3 linked regions of the Homo sapiens genome follow. The protein of the gene in region 1 interacts with the protein of each later gene in a pairwise test. Each region holds a gene or a part of one and is shown on either strand. Other genes may lie near its edges.

Region 1 (7,068 bases):
TTAGTTTTGCAGTGGATTCTGTAAGATTTTTCTATTTGTAAGATCATGTTATCTTCGAATAGAGGTAGTTTTACTTCTTCCTTTCCAGTCTGGATGCCTTTTATTTTTCTTGCAGTTTCTTATTCCACCTATCTTTAGTTTGCCATGATTCTTCATGGTACAGACTCAGTGTTATAACTTCTCTTCTTGCTATCTTTTTGTATGCTCTGAATTTTCAAGTTTAAATTTGAGAAAGTGAATACAGAGATACAGAAAACGGAGAAAAACATGGAGAATCTGAGTAGCTGAAGTATTAGCTATTATTTTTCTTAGGGCAAAGCTTTGCATTCTAGCTCATAGGTGTCTGGCTAGTAAATGCTGCCTTTGGATTAGATGACTATTAATAAGCTGTAGCCAGAAAGAAAGGGAGGCCACAAGTTCTGGGTAGCTCAAGAAGGGATTGTATAGGCATGACTGGCCTAGAAATTGACATGGATAGAACAGTATTGTTAGAGAAGGCATTTTGTTTTAAAGAATACATTGAATTTTTTTTAAACTCAGAAGGCATCTTTGTAATGTTGGTTAAAATGCATTAGGATGTCTAAAACATTTTTGGATTGTCTGTTTGATTAGACCACTTATATGTGTTTGAATCATAAAACATGAAGGCACTCCACTACCTTCTCATGCTTGGCATTCATCATCTTTAATATATTTGGTTGAAAGAACTCTACTTAATATTCTAACTGGAGATATATATATATATATTTAAGACAACTAGTGGTTTCTTCATCTCTCTATTCTCTCCAAGGAACGCTTTCTTTGTACTTGGTTATTTTCGTAAGTGCTTGTTGAGCATGTGTGTTATATAGAACCTCCGATATGCCCTATATATTGGGGTAATAAGTGAGAGTGTGTTTGTGGAGGGGAGGGTCCCCAAAAAATGAAAGTCATAATTCCTTGGAGCTTTAGTTCCCAGTAGAAGAAAGAGTTAGGCTGGGCATGGTGGCTCATGCCTGTAATCCCAGCACTTTGGGAGGCTAAGGCAGAAAGGTTGCTTGAGCTCAGGAGTTTGAGACCAGCCTGGGCAGCATAGTGAGACCACAGCTAGGTGTGGTGGCACACACCTGTAGTCACAGCTACTGGGGAGGCTGAACTGGGAGGGATTGCTTGAACCTGGGAGGTTGGGGCTGCAGTGAGTCGTGATTGGGCCACTGCATTCTAGCCTAGGCAACAAAGCAAGACCCTCTCTCTCTCAAAAAAAAAAAAAGAAAAAAGAAGGAAACTTGAGAACAAGTACAAAGTAGCACGTAGTCTCATAACTGCAAAGTAACATAGTACAATTTTAAAAGAATATAATGATGAGATGTAATCAACACTCTGCTACTGACCAGGGATATAGAGATTAAAAAGACATAGTTTCTGCTCTAAAGATTCATACAGTAAGGTTGGGAGCGGTGGCTCACGCCTATAATCCCAGCACTTTGGGAGGCTGAGGTGGGAGGATCATGAGGTCAGGAGATGGAGACCATCCTGGCCAACATGGTGAAACCCCATCTCTACTAAAAATACAAAAAAATTAGCTGGGTGTGGTGACACGCACCTGTAGTCCCAGCTACTCCGGAGGCTGAGGCAGGAGAATTGCTTGAACCTGGGAGGCGGAGGTTGCAGTGAGCCAAGATTGCGCCACTGAACTCCAGCCTGGCGACAGAGCGAGACTCTGTCTCAGAAAAATAAAAGATACATACAGTAATAGATCAGCACATAATTGGATTCATACAGTAATAGATCAGCACATAATTGAAGCTCAAAAATGCGACTGCATTGTAGATGCCTTTGGCATAAGAGAATGCCATGGTGTGTTGTGGCCTGCTGCTTTTAATGTTGAGAGGGATTAATTGAAGAATAGTACCATCATTAACCTAATTTCTATTGAGAATCATCTGCCTCTGTAAAACTAAGGTCATATGGCTAAACTTATGTGTAACAGTGTGTTTAGCAAAAAAGAAATATGTAGATGAATAACCTAATAACTATGTACTGGTCTCGTAGAGGTGAAATGTTGAACTATTAATAGGAACTTTCCACAATAGATCATCTCAACTTTTCTGATGTAGTTTTAATTCCTCCACTAATTTATGCCATCTTTGGCAATCACTTAACTTTTCTCTGCCTAACCCTATTATGGCCTAACTTATGTAACTGAACTAGTAGTAGAAGGAGACACAAAAGTGGAAAGTAAATTCTCTACATACTTGGTGCAAATAATTTATTCTATGAAGAAATGTATTTTCTCATAGACAGGTTTGAAAACCATAGTACTTAAAATTTTACTTTACAAAAAGAAAAAAATACAGATACTAGTTCATGAGACAAGAGACATGGACCAAACACACGTTTACGTTTTTTATTTTTTTATTTTATGGCTACTACTAAAATGCCACCATTCATGTACTGCATAACAGTGTTTCAGTCAAAGAAGAACCTCATTTCTGGCAGTGGAATCATAAGATTATAATGGAGCTGGAAAATTCCTGTCTCCTAGTATTTACTATACTATGCTTTTTATCTTTAGGTTAAAGTGCATTCTTTCTACCTATATAAAAAAGTTAACTGTAAAACAGCCTCAGGCAGGTCCTTCAGGAGGTGTTACAGAAGGTGCTGTTATCATAGGAGATAGCTCCATACGTGTTATTGCCTCTGAAGACCTTTCAGTGGGACAAGATGTGAAGGTGGAAGACAGTGATATTGATGATCCTGACCCCGTGTAGGTCTAGGCTAATGTGTGTGTGTTTGTCTTAATTTTTAACAAAAATGTTTAAAAAGTAAAAAGTAAATAATTTCAAAAATAGAAAAAGCTTATAGACTAAGTATATAAAGAAAGAAATATTTTTGTACAGCTATATAGTGTGTTTGTGTTTTAAGCTAAGTGTTATTAAAGAGTCAAAAAGTCACAAAAAAAGAAGTTTATAAGTTTAAAAAGTTACAGTAAGCTAAGGTCAATTTATTCTTGAAGAATGAAAATATATGAAAATAAATTTAGTGTTGCCTAAGTGCACAGTGTTGATAAAAGGTACAGTACTGCATAGTTGCGTCCCAGGCCTTCACATTCAACTCCCCACTCACTCACTGACTCACTCAGGGCAACTTCCAGTCCTGTAAGCTCCATTCATGGTAAGTGCCCTATAGAAGCATACCATTTTTTATCTTTGATTTTTTTTTTAATGGAATGCTTCAGAAATTCATGTGTCAACCTTGCTCAGGGGCTGTGCTAATCTCTGTATTGTTCAAATTGTCCTAGATGTGTTGCCAAAGCAATCACTTTTACACTGTTTTTGCTGTAGCTTTTCTATGTTTACATATATTTGTACACACAAATACCACTGTGTTACAATTGCCTACAGTATTTAGTACAGTGACATGCTGTACATCTTTGCAGCCTGGGAGCAATAGGTTACACCAAGTAGCCCAGGTGTGTAGTAGGCTACACCATCTGGGTTTGTGTAAGTACACTCTATGATGTTTGCACAACCACAGATATCACAGGGTCACCTAACGAGGCATTTCTCAGAAGTAGTCTTCATTAAGCTACCCTACGACTGTAATGAAACGCTAAGTTTTGAGCCAGGAATTTGTGTATAGAACACTAGGAATGGCTTCATTAGTATCATGCATCTTTTTCATTAAACTGTGAGTCCCTTTGAGAGAAAGATTGTGTCTCTGAACTTAGTGGCCTAAATTTCTAGAATTATGTCTTCAAAAAGTTGCCCAGTTAGGCGTCTCTGGGGAGTCAAAACCACAACTCCCAGAATGCCGTGCTCCCTTAGCGCGCTCAGGCGCGGGGAGAGAATGTCCCATCACCCACCGCGCCAGATCGAGACCACAGTTCCCACTACACCCAGGGACTCCGCGGAAAGCTATCAAACACCACCTGTTGCCATAGCATCCGGGTCGGGTGAACCAATCCGGGCGCCCTCGCCGAACAGAGGCGGGCAGTTCGCATCGCCGACCAACCTGAGGCGTTTTTGTTGTGGCGCGTGACCGGAGGAGGCGGGAGCTCAGGACCGGCGCCTTCTCCTTGCTTCTGGGGGTCGTGGCCTTGCTCCCGCTGTGCGGGAAAAGAATCCAGGCCCTTCCACGCGCGTGTGGGTGCGGGGGCCCCGAAGTGCTCGTGGTTCCCCGCTAGGTCTCCGCTGGGGCAGGAACCGGAATCATGGGTGGGACCACCAGCACCCGCCGGGTCACCTTCGAGGCGGACGAGAATGAGAACATCACCGTGGTGAAGGGCATCCGGGTGAGTGCCCGTGGACGGGCGGAGGGCCAGTGGTTGGACTCGGACCCCAAGGCCCCATCTTCTCCGGACCCGCTCAGCCTGGGTTTCTCCCGTCCTGGACCCTAGCGTATTAAGGCCAGAAGCCCAGGTGTCTGGGAAGAAGCCTAGAGTTTCAAGACGTGGGACATTCATTCAGAGATAGTTCCTGGTTGTGCCAAGTGCTAGGCACTGCTGGGGCGGGCGGGGAATGCCAGGTTGAATTATACCCTGCAAGGGCTCACAGTCTACTCGTAACTGTACTGCTCCCTTGTTGCAGGACCGTATTTGAAACCCATACCTCGGTGTACTTGTCTGTGAAATGGTTTTCCTGGGTTCAGGACCCAAACCCTGCTTTTCCACTGTGCACACCCTGTCTCCCAGGGTGAATTGGCATTTTAAGGATTGCCTTTGCTTTGTGTCATTTAGTGCTCTCCCTCTGATAACACCCCCTCCTCCCACCCACTCCCCACACCCTGTCATCCTCCCTCCCAGCCCCACAGTCTTTTCTGACCTGCCTGGGGCGGCTTCTGGCTTCTCCCTGCTTCACTTTCACTTGATATCTCCTCTTTCCCAGGCGCCTCCTCTGTGACCTGCTGCGCCGAAGTTTTGGATTAGGCCCAGTTGCTTCAGGACTAGTGTCTGCCAGTCTGATAGGGGCTGAGATGGGTTTGCAGTTTTTCATACCAGTAGAAGTAATGTAGTCATTTCTGACCAACGTTGTAGAGCACTTTTTTTTTAATGCCCTTTGCATGCACCTGATACATAAACTGAAAACCTGGTTTTTCTCTAGGGTGTCAGTATACCAGCACTAACTTCATTAACACACTCTCCGCTGCGCCTGAATTTGGAGCCTCACATTTTTGGACGTATGATGCCTGAACCTAGTAAATAAAGCAATTTTGACTTCAGAAAGTTTTATAATAATTTATATATTTTTTTCTGTTATCAACCAGCGTAAATAAATTACATTTGTAAATTATTTTTAACAGTTGTTACCAGGAAATAAAACTTCTTAAATATTTAAAATGTTTAAAAACTTTTTCTTCTGAAACTGTTACCTTGAGAATAATTTATTAAACTTTTCTTCATAGAAACTCAGACTGTCGAACTCAGTTTTTGGTCTGTGACCAGTATTTCTTTATATCATGCTAATTAATGGTAGTACTACATTTTGTAATAAAATATCTGAGGCTGTATTCTTTGAGTTATTGTGTTTCAGTTAGTACTCTTTGGAGTAAAAAATTACTGTAAACTTTAAGTTTTATGCAGAGATTTTAAGACTCTTGCCATTAGGCTTTCAGTACGCAACTCAGAGTGAAAAATAATTAAAAGACAAAGCAAAATAAGTTTTGAGTGAGAAGACATTGGTTAGAAAAAAATGTATAAATCCATATTCTCGTGCTTTAGTACAGACACAGTGCTAACAGCAAACAAAATCGAAAGAGAATGTGGCCACAGCACAGAGATTCATATCAAGTATTAGATAAGGTTGGATGGAATAACTGTGACAGCAGGGATAGGTATTCTATTAAAATGGAAAAATTGTCTAAAAAACCTTTTTAAGATTTTTGTTTTTTAAAAAGAAATGTCCTTTGGTCATATAACTTGACAGCATTCCTCATTTTTTTCCTTTCTTATATAGTACATTTTACCTGTATTGCTAACAGTTCAAGCATGATCATTTTTACCTCTATGCTTTTCTTCAGAATATACCCTTCACCTGGAATGCCCTTGCGCTGGTCTCCATTGCTTCAAATCCTCCTTTTACATGAATGTTTTGCAATCTCTCTGAGCTTCAGTTTTCCCATCTGCAAAATAATGCAACTGAGTACATCCCTCAGATCTCTAATATTTTCCAGTCCTGAAATCCTGTGAGTCTGGTGGCACTGTAAGTTTCTTGTAGCCATACTTAGCCCATTGCAGTTTCCTCTAGAAGTGACATCCATTGAAGTATTGAGTACACAGAGGTCATTCTGATTTCTTTGAGCTCATGATCAAAAGAGTATCAACTTGAAATTAAACAGACCTCAGTTTAAATCTCAGGTTAGATATTTATTACTTAACCTGATTGCCTGTGTGATTTTTGTCTGGGTCTTTTGTAGATGTTTTTCAGTTGATCTTAGTATTTTTCTTGGCTTGAATTAAGCAGACATCAGTTTAAATCGCAGGTTAGTTATTTATTAGCCTGTGGCCTTTGACAATTGACTTCTTTTATTTCCTTATCCATAAACGGTAATACCATCACTTCCCTTGATTGGTTATTGTAAGAAGATGAGGTAAGGTATGTAAAGCACCTGGCACATTGTAGATTTTCATTAAAAAGGCAGCCATTATTATGATAGGGTTCCTTTCACATGCAAAGTTTTAAGATTCTTTGAAAGTGCTGTGCTGTGTAGTGGAAAGAGCATGTGCCTTGGAACCAAGCAGACCTGGGTTGGATTCTATCTCTGCCTCTCACTAGCGGTGTCGCTCTGGACAAGTCACTTTTCATTGTGTTTCCGTATTTAGTATTTCTGGACAAAGCCTACTTTGAGAATTTGACATAATGTATATCTAGCACAGTGTCTTGTACTTTGACAGTGTTTGCACTTGTGAATAATAGCTGTTATTAGAGCTGTTCAAAAGAATGGATATGTGAACTTAAGTGAACTTCAAATTTTAATAAAAATAAGAGCATGTTGTGCCCCAACAGGTGTACCTAAAAGGGTATGGACTGGGAAATGGGAGTCTTACATTCTGCCCTAATTGAGGGTGTTTTTTTGTCTAGGTCTGTTGTA
Region 2 (7,032 bases), on another chromosome or scaffold:
AGAGCCAGGGTAGATGGAAGAGAGAGTGGGACAGCTGCTTCACGTGCTGGGGCCTCTCACTGTCTCCCTTCATTTTGGGCTATAATTTAGTGGGCTAGGGTCTCCCCTGAGTACGGAGGTTCCAGCCATTCACCCATGTTCTGGTAATAGCCCAAATATAGAGCCCTGGGAGGGGCTCAGGACCACTGGGAAGGGAGCCAGGCCTGCTGCAAGCCTGGCTGAGCAAAAGGAACGTGAGCCTTGTAGGGGCTGTAGCGGGGGCCTGGCCCAAGATTTTCCCAGTCGGTGTTTGAGTGCGTACCTCTGCTGGCTGCATGCTCCCTGCACAGGGCCTAAGGACAAGGTCATGCCCTTGGAGCCCTACCCTGGTCCAGGTCCCACTCTGGGAGGCCCCTCATTTCCCCATCCAGCTATTTTAACTCCTCTCCCATTTCCCCACACCTCCCTGTAGGCCAGGACTTGGAAGGAGCCTCACAAGACCCCTTCAGTTCTCAGGGGTATCTGCTCCCCAGCTGCCCTCCTTGGGCTCTTTCAGAGCTCTGTGCCAGGCTGGGCCCTGCTAGAAGAGACACAGGCAGGCCCGAGGACAGAGTCATCCTGTGCCCCATCCCTCTCTCAGACCAATTAACCTTTAGAGCTGCATTAAGGAAATTAGGCAGCACACTCACCAGCTAACAGACAGGCCCTGCCGGGACTGCAGGGAGGAGAAGGAGGAGGGAGCCACTGGCCCTGCACACTGTAGCCTGTGGGTGGGCGCCAGCTCCCCAGACTCACCTGTCCAGGAGAAGTCTGAGGAGCCAGCTGGGCTGAGAGCGAGCACAGGAGAGGAGAAGGAGCCCTGGGGCCAGCTTGACGGTGGCTGACTCAAGCCCCTGTAACTGTCTGAGCCTCAATTTCCCCATCTGTAGTATGAGAACATTTAACTGGGAGAACTCTGAGGGCTCTTCTGACCTTACATCTGTGGATTCTGAGACCAAGGCCTCTTGTGGCTTGTTCTCCCCTAACGCCCAAGGAGGAGAGAAGCAAAAGGAAGGGAAGCAGCCCAACCATTCAGACTCTGGGCTGGGGGCAGTGAGGAGGGCTGGGAATGGGAGGGACACCAGGGGATGGGAGGAAGGCCAGAGCCCTGGAGAGAGCAGGGGTCCTTTGGAGAGGACGGGGCCAGTAGAAGGACAGACTCCAGGGGAGTGTTGGAAAGCCGGGGAGGTGGGGAGGGGTGGGCCCCTATCCAGCTGCGCCTTGGTCAGGAACGGAGCATGCACACGCTCCCTGTCTTCACAAGGGTTCTCAGGCAACTGCCACAGGCTCCCGCCCTGTCAAGTCACAGAGCAGGGCTTCTGAGGTCCTCTGCACTTCCCTCCCAGCCTCACGGGTCCACATGGATGTCCAGGCTACTGGACGACATATGTCCCCATCTCCTCCTCAACGGTCCCTGTGGTTCCAGGAGAAGGGACTAGGAACCCGTGCCTCTGTCACTTCATGCCCACACCTGCACGTCGTGCCTGTGTGTGAGGGGTGTGTGTGAGCGCACATGCTCGCCTGCCGCGACGGGAGGCTCTGCCCTGTGGTGAACATCACATTGGGCCCTTTGTACTTGGTGCCTGTGTGTATGTTGGGAAGCTGGTATGGGCCCTGGGAGGGACTGATGGCTGAGAGATCCTAATCCTGGTAGAATGAGGAAGGATCCAGAGGCTCAGAGCCTGCCCTCCCCCAGGCCAGGGCAGGTGAGGTGTGACACCGCCTGAAGCATTCCCAAGGGGAGCCCCAGCCAGGCCCTGCCAGCTGCCTCCGCTTACCTGCCAGGAGCCCCAGAGCCTCTGCTCCCTCCTGGGAGTGTCCCAGGGGCGTCTCACTTCCTTCTTGATGCCATCACAGCTCTACATGGATAGACCAAGAGGCTGTAGCACTTCAGCTGGAGAAAGACGAGTTGGCACAAAGATCTGGGGGTTCTAGAGGACCTCGTGGGCCTGAGGAGACTACATTTCTTAGGCTTATTGCTGAAAGAGCCAATGTGATGGTGGCTTCACAAGACGAGCTTCAGGCTTACTCCGGATGAGACCGCACAGGGGATAGAGGCCATGGTAGGGAGGAACAACTCAGGGAGGCCAGGCCTGGGGTCTGTGTGTGCCTTGGAGCAGAGCAGCCTCTGGAGGGACCTTCACAGGGCCAGGGAAACAGGCTGTGCCATGTAGCCCAAAGGGCAGGACCCGGAGCCAGGGGAGGAGGTTATTGGGGAGAAAGCGAGGGCTCCTGGGAGCCCCAAACCTAGAGGGGGCAGCAGAGAGAAGCAGTGAGCTCCCCATTCTTGGGGGATATTCCTTGAGGCCCAGAGCTACGGGGCCCATCCTGCGTTGCTGTCTGTCTGTCCGTCTGCAGGCGTGCCGATGCTCTCCGTCCAGCCCAAAGGGAAGCAGAAGGGCTGTGCGGGCTGTAACCGCAAGATCAAGGACCGCTATCTGCTGAAGGCATTGGACAAGTACTGGCACGAAGACTGCCTCAAGTGTGCCTGCTGTGACTGCCGCCTGGGCGAGGTGGGCTCCACCCTCTACACCAAGGCCAACCTCATCCTGTGCCGACGCGACTACCTGAGGTGGGCTGCCAAACCCTGGCCTCCCAAGCCCTTGTCCTGCTCAGAAAGCTCCCCATCCTCAGCCCCAGCGTGACTGTGCCCCCGGCCCTAGACCCAGTACCCTGTGTGTCCTCTCATTCTTGACTGTCCTGCCCCTGCCCTGCTTGCCCCAGATACCTGAGAAGTCACCTGAGGGGAAGGCCCAGGTCGTTATGCCCTTGGACTCGGTACCCAGCACAAGTCCAGGGCAGGCATTTGTAACCTGGGGCCCCTAAGTTAAGCTTTCCGAGGGCCCCAGTCTGGCTCCGCCCCCCTGCCTTGGCCAGGTGCTTCTGACCCACCTGATCTGGAATCTGGGAGGGGATACCTCAGAGGGGCTTTGAGAACAGGTGTGGAAGCTTTGACTTCCCCAGGACCCTCCTCCCTAATGCAGTCTCTTTCCATCTCCCAGTGTCCAACTTTCCTTTCTAGATGGTCCTTGGGAGCAGGCATCCATTTGCCCAGGGAAACTGGCAGGCAGCCATATCCTAGGAGCAGGGCCACTGATGCTGGAGCTTCAAGACCTGGGTTGGAACTAGCTGTGAGCCTTTGGCTCCTAATCTTCTCCCAGCCTCAGTTTACTTCCCCGTGAAGGGTGAAAGAATGATGCTTCCCTGCCTTGCATTCCTCTGAGCTCTAACTCACCCTCCCTACAATTTGGATCCTATTCCCTGGGGCCACCTCCCCCAATTAACCCTCCCTGAGGCCATTTATGACATCAGCAAGGCTGGAAGGAGGCCACAAAGCAGGGCCTTGGCTGAGACCCAGCACCTGCATTTGGCTCTGTCGCAGGCTGCTGGATGGTTGCCGGGCTTGTGGGGAAGGAGGGCTCATCGCATTAATTAACAGGTCGGGGCAAGGGCTTCATGGGGCTCCCTCTGCCCAGGTCTGGGCATGTTGCAAGGGGGAGGTTATCAGTGGAAGCTCCCTCAATTCCCCAAAGATCCTTTGACTGACCTGCCTGCCCCTTTTAACACCTGCATTTAAAAGTGATGCAGTAAAACAGAAGCTGTGACTTAGTGCTCCTTGCCAGGGCTGGAGGGGAGAGGCTGAGACCAGAAGCAGGGGTTAAGGAAGAATGTTCAGGCTAGGCGCGGTGGCTTATGCCTGTAACTCCAGCACTTTGGGAGGCCGAGGCAGGCACGTCACTCCAGCTCAGGAGTTCGAGACCAACCCTGGGCAACATGGTGAAACCCCGTTTCTAAAAAAAAAAAAAATTAGCCAGGTGTAGTGGCTGCATGCCTGTAGTCCCAACTACTCAGGAGGCTGAAGTGGAAGGATTGCTTGAGCCCAGATGTTTGAGGCTGCAGTGAGCTGTGATTGCGCCACTGTACTCCAGCTTGGGTGCCAGAGCAAGACCCTGTCTCAAAAAAGAAAAGAATGTTCCTGGGGATTCACCCCTTGAGGACCTAGAAGGGGCCTCCATGTCTGGAGGTTTAGGGCATCACCTGGGGGCTGACTCTACCAGGTTAGGACGATGTGGCAGACCATCTGATGGGTTCACAGGACTTGGAGAGAGAGGCCCACAGTGTAGGATGGGCTTATCAGGAAAAAGCACCCTCAAGCATATAGGGCCCTGCCAGCTACTAGGGATGGAAGGTAATTTTTTTTTTTTTTTTTGCTCTGGCAGAGGCAAGGAGTGACTGTAGGACCAGCTAGACCAGTGGGCTGGGATGCGAGCGTGGCTTCCTTGAGCTGCTCAGGCCTGGAGAATGGCTGTCCAGAGCCTGCGCCCTCTGCAGCAACTGTTCCTGGGCCGATGGCAAGAAAAGCCCCTCTTGGCAGGCAGATGCTGTGGCCTAGCCTTTGTCTGCCTTAATCTGAGCCACCAGGCAGCTCAAGCTGATGAATAATGGAGCCAAGCTCATCTGCAGGCGCCTGAGTTTGAGCTGGACAAATCGGGGATTAAAGGGGCCCCCCACCCTCTTCTCAGCCTCCTTGCCTCACTTGGGGCTTGCTCTGTCTGTGTGCAGGAAAGAAGCAAGGAGGAGCCGGGATGGCTCAGACCATTGGGACATCCAGCCAAGGGCTGGCCTGCATGGGGAGGGAGTAAACTCCCTGTCCCTAGAGCTTTACAGCCAGCAGCTAAGAGGAGGGGTGCCTGCCTCAAAGAGGCATTTGTGCCAGATGTCCTTGGCGCTTCCTTTGGGCATCAGTTCTGTTTTACAGCATCTTTGAATAGGATCATCCATCCCTATTTTACAGAAGGATAAACTGAGGTTCAGAGAAAGAAAAAAAGGGACTTAGGCAAGTAACACAGTGAGTTTGTCATGGAAAAAAGATTTAATAAAACACTTTAATTTTGGCAAGGCACAGTGGCTCACACCTGTAGTCCCAGCACTTTGGGAGGCCAAGGCAGGAGGATCAGTTGAGGCCAGGAGTTCGAGAGCAGCCTGGCCAATATAGTGAGACCCCATCTCTATTTTTAAAAATCAAATAATAAACACTGTAATGTTAAAGGTGGGAAAAGCATGTCATGCAGTGGTTTAGAGCACGCCTTCTGGACCAAGGCCCTGTGACTGTCCAAGTTGTTTCTCTGTGACTCATATTTTAAATCTTTAAAATGGGGAATAATAATAGTACCACCTCCTAGGTTTGTTGTGAGGATTAAGCGTTTATCTTTGTAAAGCTCTTAGATTAGTGGCTGACACATAGTGAACACTACCTAGGTGGTTGCTTAGTGAGTTGTGACTGAGAATTTACAACAGGTTTCACAACTACCCCATAAAGGGTGTGTTTCAGGCTTTGTTTTACAGATGAGGTAAATGAGGCTCAGAGAGACTCACTGACTTGCCTGAGGGCACACAACCCAAGATTCAGTCTGCCCCTGAAATTCAGGCTTGCTCAGGGCCCAGCCTAGGATTCTCTTGGTGGCTCCAGGGCTTGAGGACCCTTGTGGGAGCCTGGGAGGGGGCCTTGGGATGGGCAGTGGCAGCCAACTCCTGACCCCCTACACACCCTCCCTGGAAGGGGATGTGCTGATTTATTGGCAGCCTGATCTCTGGGCAGAATCTAGATGCTGCCCTCAGTGCTCTTATCCTATTGCCTGAGCCCACCTGCTGAGCCCACAAGTTGGAGTATGGGAAGGACCCTGGATGGAGGCAACTCCTTTCCCCCTGCCCACCCAGCTTCCCAGAATGCTGCTGAGTCCTCTGCGCCCTTCCCTCGGCAGGCTCTTTGGCACCACAGGGAACTGTGCTGCTTGCAGCAAGCTGATCCCAGCCTTCGAGATGGTGATGCGGGCCCGGGACAACGTGTATCACCTCGACTGCTTCGCCTGCCAGCTCTGCAACCAGAGGTCAGTGCTGGACTGGCCGACCCAACACACTCCCCAGACGCCAGCCTGAGGCCTGCTGGGATGGGCCAGGAGCACGGCGGAGGCGTGCACGCAAATGCGGGTTGCGTGTGTGTATGTGGTGGTGCGTGCAGGTTATGAGCGTGCATGTGCTTTATGTGTTTTATGTGTGTGTAAGCTCGGTAGCCAAATGTGTGCACTTTAATATTGGGTGTGCACATCTGTGTGGCACATTTCTGTGTGAATATAATGAAGGCGTGCATGAGTTTACTGTGTATGCATAGTTGAGTGTGCATGTGCATGCATGTGTATTTGGAAATGTACAAGTGGGCACATGTGCATGATGGAATTAATATGCATTTGTACATGTGTTTTTAAATGTCTGGGGGTGTATGTGTATGTGCAACGTGCATGCATGATGAGGTGAGTATGCATGTGTGTATACATATTTTATTTTTTGAGATAGTCTCACTCTGTTGCCCAGGCTGGGGTGCAGTGGTGTGATCTCACAATCTTGGCTCACGGCAACCTCTGCCTCCCGGGTTCAAGTGATTCTCCTGCCTCAACCTCCCAAGTAGCTGGGACTACAGGCGTGTGCCACCACGCCTGGCTAATTTTTATTTTTATTTTTATTTTTATATTTTTAGTAGAGACGGGGTTTCACCATGTTGGCCAGGCTGGTCTTGAACTCCTGATCTCAGGTTATCTGCCCACCTCAGCCTCCCAGATTGCTGGGATTACAGGTGTGAGCCACCGCGCCCAGCCTGTATACGTGTTTGAAACGTGCATGTGCATGGGATAACGTATCCTCCCACCCCCGTACCCAGTGTATAGTATGTGCATGTGTGTGCATGTATGTTCCAGTGAGAAGGGGTTCCCAAATCTGGAGGGCAAAGTCCCCTCAGGGAGTGGCCACTCTCTCCTCACCCAGCCCTTGTGATTCTGGTTCCAGCCCAGCCTATTTTCTGGTCTCTTGGCCCCAACTCTGTGCCCTAGCCCTGTGGGAGTCCCTGGGGACCTAAGGAGCCAGAGCCCTTCAGCCCTGGCTGGGGCCTAGCACCAGAAGGCAGGCGCTCTTCTCAGGAGCCCCCAGGTCAGGTAGGAACGCATACAAGTGCTCCCTGAAGTG
Region 3 (7,032 bases), on another chromosome or scaffold:
GCTAGTAGAGTTAAGTCCTTTAAGATGTATTCTCACCAAGGAACATATGCAATAAATAGTTTATACACATTGTGAGTATTTAAAGCAGATGTCAGCAAACTTTTTCTGTAAAGGGCAGTTAGCGTATATTTTGGCCATTGCAGTGGTTTTAGCCTGCGTAGTCTGCCACAACAAAATACCACAGATTGAGTGGTTTAAATAATAGAATTTATTTTCTCACAGTTCTGGAGGTTGGAGGTCCAAGATCAAGGTGCCAGCTGGTTTGAATTCTGGTGAGGGCTCTCTTCCTGGCTTGCATACAGCGGTCTTCTTGCTATGTCTTCATGTGGCCTTACCTTGGTGTGTACATGTGGGAGTTAGGGGAGGGAAGTAACTCTCTTTCTCTTCTTCTCTTCTAAGGCAACCAGTTCTATGGGATTAGACTTAAAGGTGGCATACCTCTATCCTTAAGATCTGGTTTAACCTTAATTACCTCCTAAGGATCCTGTCTCCAAATATAGTCACATTGAGGGTTAGGGGTTCAACATATGAATTTTGGGGATGAGGGGGACACAATTTAGTCTGTGTATCTCTGTCACAACTATTCAACTCTTCCCTTGTAATGGGAGAGCAGCTGTTAACAAAAAAGCGTAAATTATTTACATAATTATTTGTGGATTGAAAATTTAAATTTTTATAATTTCCATGTGTTATGAAACATTTTTTAAAATTTTTTAAACCATTTAAATATGTAAAACCCACTCTTAGCTTGCAGGTCATAAAAAAAACAGGTGGCAGGTTAGATTTGTCCCATGGACTATAGTTTGCAGTATCTGTAGTTTTAGAGTATCAAGATTTACAGGATAGAAGTGATGAGTGTTAAAATCTCCCTGTGTGGTTCTGTTTTCAGGAAGGTACTTGATATTTTTCAGATGACTATGACAAGCTAATAGTACACCATTTCTCCTTTCCTTGTATGTTATAGGTACTGAAATTTGATGCCTATTTCCAAGAAGATGTTCCTATGTCAACTGAGGAACAGTATAGGATCCGTCAGGTGAACATTTACTATTATCTAGAAGATGACAGCATGTCTGTCATAGAGCCTGTTGTAGAAAATTCTGGAATCCTTCAAGGCAAGTTAATAAAACGCCAGCGGCTAGCCAAGAATGACCGGGGTGACCATTACCATTGGAAAGACCTAAATCGAGGAATAAACATCACAATTTATGGCAAAACTTTCCGCGTTGTTGACTGTGACCAATTCACACAGGTATAGCATATATTTTTGAAAGTTGTGGGGTCTGAGGCATCATTCTAATTTATAGAAGGATACATTTCATTTATTAGGGTAAGGGGAGGACATTGGTAATCTGTCCTGCATGAATTATTATGAATGGCTAGGTATTTGCATGTGTGTATGTGCTAATATGTGCCAACACTAATAGTAACATAATTTTTTCAGAATGATATTAATACTTATTCACTCAAAATCAAACTCTCATCATAGCTGAATAATTTGGTAAGAAACCAGGTTAAAATGGCAGTTCAAACAGGGAGTAGGGGAATAGCATCCCTGCTGGGATGTAAGTATGGAAGAGGGATTAAACGTTTTATCTTAAGTGTGAGTTTACAAAAATAGCACTACTTCTATTAGCAGATATGAGCCTAAAATTTTTTGTGTAGCTCATATATTTTTGGTAAATGATACTTGCTATATTCTAGGAAAGCTTACCATCTAAAGAATTTCTGAAATGAAACCATTTTTAAATGAAAAAACCTCTTCTATATGTAAAAAGTCCTCTATTTCGTAAGTTTGGATTTTTTAATACAAAGGAAACTTTTATTAAAGTTACATGCATAGAGGATATAGGTGGCCTTTCTTTACTACAAAGTGTAGGAATTAGGAAGTCAATTCCAAATTTGTCTTAGTTAAAAAAATATTTCTAGCAGCAAAGATATAGTTTCTGAAGTATTTTATGTCCCTATTCCAGGATACCTAGTGCCATATGTGACTAATTTTTACCATGCACTGAGCTCCTATGAATCCATTATTGTTTTCATTTAGTAGTTTGTTTAACAGATATTTATTTGCATGCCTGCTTTGTTCCATGCACTGTTCTAGGTGCCAGATGTTTTCAGGAAGGTACTTGATATTTTTCAGATGACTATGACAAGCTAATAGTGCACCATTTCTCCTTTCCTTGCATGTTATAGGTACTTGCCCCTATAGAGGTTCCAATCTTGTTGGAGGAGATAAGCAATAGCAAATAAATAGATTGGTTATATGTCAGATGATGATAACAGCAATGGAGGAAAATAAAGCTGAGTAAAGGGAATGGAAGTTGAGGGGCTCTTTATAGAGGCGGATCAGAGAATGCCTCAGTGATAAGATGACATATGAATAGAGGCCTGAAGGAAGTAAAGAAAGGAGCCATGGCATCAGTGCCATTCCAAAGCAATAGAGAAAAATAGCTTCAAAAGTAGAGGTGCTAGACCATCTTTGAGATATTCTCCCGTTCCAACATATTTTTATCTCTTTGCTTTTTAGGTGTCTGAGGTCTTATATATCATAGGCAGTTTCACAATTGTACCAACAGTGAGAAATGATAAAATGTTATCTAAACATAAATGTATTAACAATTATTTTTACAGTTGTGTTTTCATAACAATTATTTTTACAGTTGTGTTTTTATGGGCAATTTGAACATTTGCAAGTTAATCACTGAGCGTTTGACCTAATCTATTTATAGTCGGTTCTCATTATTGACAGTAATTAGGACTATAAAGTCACCACAAACACTGAATTAGTGAATACTGAACCACTAGTCTTAGAGGAAATACAGGGTTAGGTTCCCACTAATCTCTGGCCACATTTTTGTCAACTGATCAATACATAAGTTTGATTCATGTATGTTTCTGTTTAAAGACACCTTATTTAATATATACGGTTGATTCATTAACATTAAACTCACACCCAACAGCACTATAACTCACGTCTGAACAAAGCTTATCTAAGACATGCATTTTCTCCATGAGGTGTGTTACAGCCTTCTTGTGCTTAGGAACACTAAATAGCACTTCATCACTAGGCACTGGGACCCTTTAAACAGCAAAATCACCAACAAAAAACACAAAAATGCAAAAAATCTGGCACCTTCATGTATATGTATATGTATGTGTATATGTATCACATTTTCTTTTTCCAGTTTACCATTGATGGGCATTCAGGTTGATTCCATGTCTTTGCTATTATGAATAGTGCTGCGATGAACATACTTGCGGGTATGTCTTTATGGCAGAATGATTTATATTCCTTTGGGTATATACCCAATAATGAGATTCCTAGGTCAAATGGTAGTTCTGTTTTCAGGTCTTTTAGGAATCACTACACTGCTTTCTACAATGGTTGAACTAATTTATACTCTCATCACCAGTGTATAAACATTTCTTTTTCTCCACAACCTTGACAGCACCTGTTATTTTTTTACTTTTTAATAATAGCCATTCTGACTGGTGTGAGATGATATTTCATTGTGGTTTTGATTTGCATTTCTCTAATGATAGTGATGTTGAGCTTTTTTTTCATATGGTTATTGGCCATGTGTATGTCTTCTTTTGAGAAGTGTCTGTTCATGTCCTTTGCCCACTTTTTAATGGGGTTCTTTGCTTTTTTTCTTGTAAATTAAAGTTTCTTATAGATGGTGCATATTGGACCTTTGTCAGATGCATAGTTTGCAAATATTTCTTTCCCATTCTTTAGATAGTCTTTTTACTCTGTTGATGCTTTCTTTTGCTCTGCGGAAGCTCTTACGTTTAATTAGATACCATTTGTCAATTTTTGCTTTTGTTGTGATTGCTTTTGGTGTCTTTGTCATGAAATCTTTGCCCATTCCTATGTTTAGAATAGTGTTGCCTTGGTTGTCTTCCAGGGTGTTTATAGTTTTGGGTTTTACATTTAAGTCTTTTATCTATCTTGAGTTGATTTTTATATCTGGTGTAAGATATATGGCTAGCATATGGCTAGCAGGTTATCCCAGCACCTTTCCCCATTGCTTATTTTTGTCAACTTTGTTGAAGATCACATAATTATAGGTGTGTAGCCTTATTTCTGAGCTCCCTATTCTATTCCATTGGTCTATGTGTCTGTTTTTGTACCAGTACTGTACTGTTTTGGTTACTGTAGCCCTGTAGTATAGTTTGAAGGCAGGTAACATGATGCCTCCAGCTTTGTTCTTTTGCTTAGAATTGCCTTGACTATTCAGGCTCTTTTTGGGTACCATTGAATTTTAAAGTATTTTTTTCTAGTTCTGTGAAGAGTGTCACTGGCAATTTGATAGGAATAGCATTGAATCTGTACATTGCTTTGGGCAGTATGGTGACTGTAAAGATATTGATTTTTCGTATCCATGAGCATGTAATGTTTTTTCATTTGCTTGTGTTATCTCTGATTTCCTTAAGCAGTGTTTTGTAATTCTCATTGTAGAGATCTTTCATCTCCCTGGTTAGCTGTATTCCTAGGTATCTTATTCTTTTTGTGACAGTTGTAAATGGGATTGTGTTCCTGATTTTACTCTCAGCTTGGCTGTTGTTGGTGTATAGGAGTGCTAGTGATTTTTGTATGTTGATTTTGTGTCCTAAAATTTTGCCGAAGTTGTTTATTAACTTAAGGAGTTTTTGGGATGAGGCTCTGGAGTTTTCTAGATATAGAATCATGTTTTCTCCAAACAGGGATAGTTTGACTTTCTCTCTTCCTACTTGGATGTCCTTCATTTCTTTCTCTTGACTGATTGTTCTGGCCAAGACTTCCAATATTGTCTTGGATAGAAGTTGTGGAAGAGGGCATCCTTTTCTTGTGTCAGTTTTCAAGAGGAATGCTTCCAGCTTTTCCCTGTTCAATATAATGTTGGCTGTGGGTTTTTCATAGATGGCTCTGATTATTTTGAGGTGTGTTCCTTTAATACCTAGTTTATTTATTTATTTATTTTATTATTATACTTTAAGTTATGGGGTACATGCGCACAACGTGCAGGTTTGTTGCATATGTATACATGTGCCATGTTGGTGTGCTGTACCCATTAATTTGTCATTCAATTAGGTATATCTCCTAGTGGTATCCCTCCCCACACCCCCCACCCTATGACAGGCCCCAGTATGTGATGTTCCCCACCCTGTGTCCAAGTGTTCTCATTGTTCAATTCCCACCTATGAGTGAGAATATGCAGTGTTTGGTTTTCTGTCCTTGCGATAGTTTGCTCAGAATGATGGTTTCCAGCTTCATCCATGTCCCTACAAAGGACATGAGCTCATCATTTTTTATGGCTGCATAGTATTCCATGGTGTATATGTGCCACATTTTCTTAATCCAGTCTATCATTGTTGGACATTTGGGTTGGTTCCAAGTCTTTGCTATTGTGAATAGTGCCGCAATAAACATATGTGTGCATGTGACTTTATAGCAGCATGATTTATAATCCTTTGGGTATATGCCCAGTAATGGGATGGCTGGGTCATATGGTATTTCTTGTTCTGGATCCTTGAGGAATCACCACACTGTCTTCCACAATGGTTGAATTAGTTTACATTCCCACCAACAGTGTAAAAGCATTCCTATTTCTCCACATCCTCTCCAGCACCTGTTGTTTCCTGACTTTTTAATGATCTCCATGCTAACTGGCATGAGATGTGTGGTTTTGATTTGCATTTCTCTGATGGCCAGTGATGATGAGCATTTTTTCACGTATCTGTTGGCTGCATAAATGTCTTCTTTTGAGAAGTGTCTGTTCATATCCTTCGCCCACTTTTTGATGGGGTTGTTTTATTTTTTCTTGTAAATTTGTTTAAGTTCTTTGTAGATTCTGGATATTAGCCCTTTGTCAGATGGGTAGATTGTAAAAATTTTCTCCCATTCTGTAGGTTGCCTGTTCACTCAGATGGTAGTTTATTTTGCTGTGCAGAAGCTCTTTAGTTTAATTACATCCCATTGGTCAATTTTGGCTTTTGTTGCCATTGCTTTTGGTGTTTTAGTCATGAAGTCCTTGCCCATGCCTATGTCCTGAATGGTATTACCTAGGTTTTCTTCTAGGGTGTTTATGGTTTTAGGTCTAACATTTAAGTCTTTAATCCATCTTGAATTAATTTTTGTATAAGGTGTAAGGAAGGGATCCAGTTTCAGCTTTCTACATATGGCTAGCCAGTTTTCCCAGCACCATTTATTAAATAGGGAATCCTTTCCCCATTGCTTGTTTTTCTCAGGTTTGTCAAAGATCAGATGGTTGTAGATGTGTGGTATTATTTCCGAGGGCTCTGTTCTGTTCCATTGGTCTATATCTCTGTTTTGGTACCAGTACCATGTTGTTTTGGTTACTGTAGCCTTGTACTATAGTTTGAAGTCAGGTAGCGTGATGCCTCCAGCTTTGTTCTTTTGGCTTAGGATTGTCTTGGCAATGCAGACTCTTTTTTGGTTCCATATGAACTTTAAAGTAATTTTTTCCAATTCTGTGAAGAAAGTCATTGGTAGCTTGATGGGGATGGCATTGAGTCTATAAATTACCTTGTGCAGTATGGCCATTTTCACAATATTGATTCTTCCTACCCATGAGTATGGAATGTTCTTCCATTTGTTTGTGTCCTCTTTTATTTCATTGAGCAGTGGTTTGTAGTTCTCCTTGAAGAGGTCCTTCATGTCCCTTGTAAGTTGGATTCCTAGGCATTTTATTCTCTTTGAAGCAATTGTGAATGGGAGTTCACTCATGATTTGGCTCTCTGTTTGTCTGTTATTGGTGTATAAGAATGCTTGTGATTTTCGCACATTGATTTTGTATCCTGAGACTTTGCTGAAGTTGCTTATCAGCTTAAGGAGATTTTGGGCTGAGAGGATAGGGTTTTCTAAATATACAATCATGTCATCTGCAAACAGGAACAATTTGACTTCCTCTTTTCCTAATTGAATACCCTTTATTTCTTTCTCTTGCCTGATTGCCCTGGCCAGAACTTCCAACACTCTGTTGAATAGGAGTGGTGAGAGAGGGCATCCCTGTCTTGTGCCAGTTT

Evidence for each region. The genes of interacting proteins can lie anywhere in the genome.
Region 2: the proteins of CHCHD3 (region 1) and LMO1 interact in binary tests that used the Homo sapiens proteins (3 or more experiments, as listed by UniProt).
Region 3: the proteins of CHCHD3 (region 1) and EFHC1 interact in binary tests that used the Homo sapiens proteins (3 or more experiments, as listed by UniProt).

What each region holds. Positions count from the first base shown.
Region 1 is NC_000007.14:133,079,062-133,086,129, reverse strand, and holds the start of CHCHD3 (MICOS complex subunit MIC19), read left to right. Parts: upstream 1-4,039; 5' UTR 4,040-4,192; coding exon 4,193-4,273; intron 4,274-7,068. UniProt on the Homo sapiens protein: Component of the MICOS complex, a large protein complex of the mitochondrial inner membrane that plays crucial roles in the maintenance of crista junctions, inner membrane architecture, and formation of contact sites to the outer membrane.
Region 2 is NC_000011.10:8,225,849-8,232,880, reverse strand, and holds part of LMO1 (rhombotin-1), read left to right. Parts: exon of another isoform or gene 1-9; intron 10-774; exon of another isoform or gene 775-902; intron 903-1,796; exon of another isoform or gene 1,797-1,912; intron 1,913-2,376; coding exon 2,377-2,590; intron 2,591-2,602; exon of another isoform or gene 2,603-3,320; coding exon of another isoform or gene 3,321-3,457; intron 3,458-5,780; coding exon 5,781-5,906; exon of another isoform or gene 5,907-6,027; intron 6,028-7,032. UniProt on the Homo sapiens protein: May be involved in gene regulation within neural lineage cells potentially by direct DNA binding or by binding to other transcription factors.
Region 3 is NC_000006.12:52,437,340-52,444,371, forward strand, and holds part of EFHC1 (EF-hand domain-containing protein 1), read left to right. Parts: intron 1-964; coding exon 965-1,252; intron 1,253-7,032. UniProt on the Homo sapiens protein: Microtubule inner protein (MIP) part of the dynein-decorated doublet microtubules (DMTs) in cilia axoneme, which is required for motile cilia beating.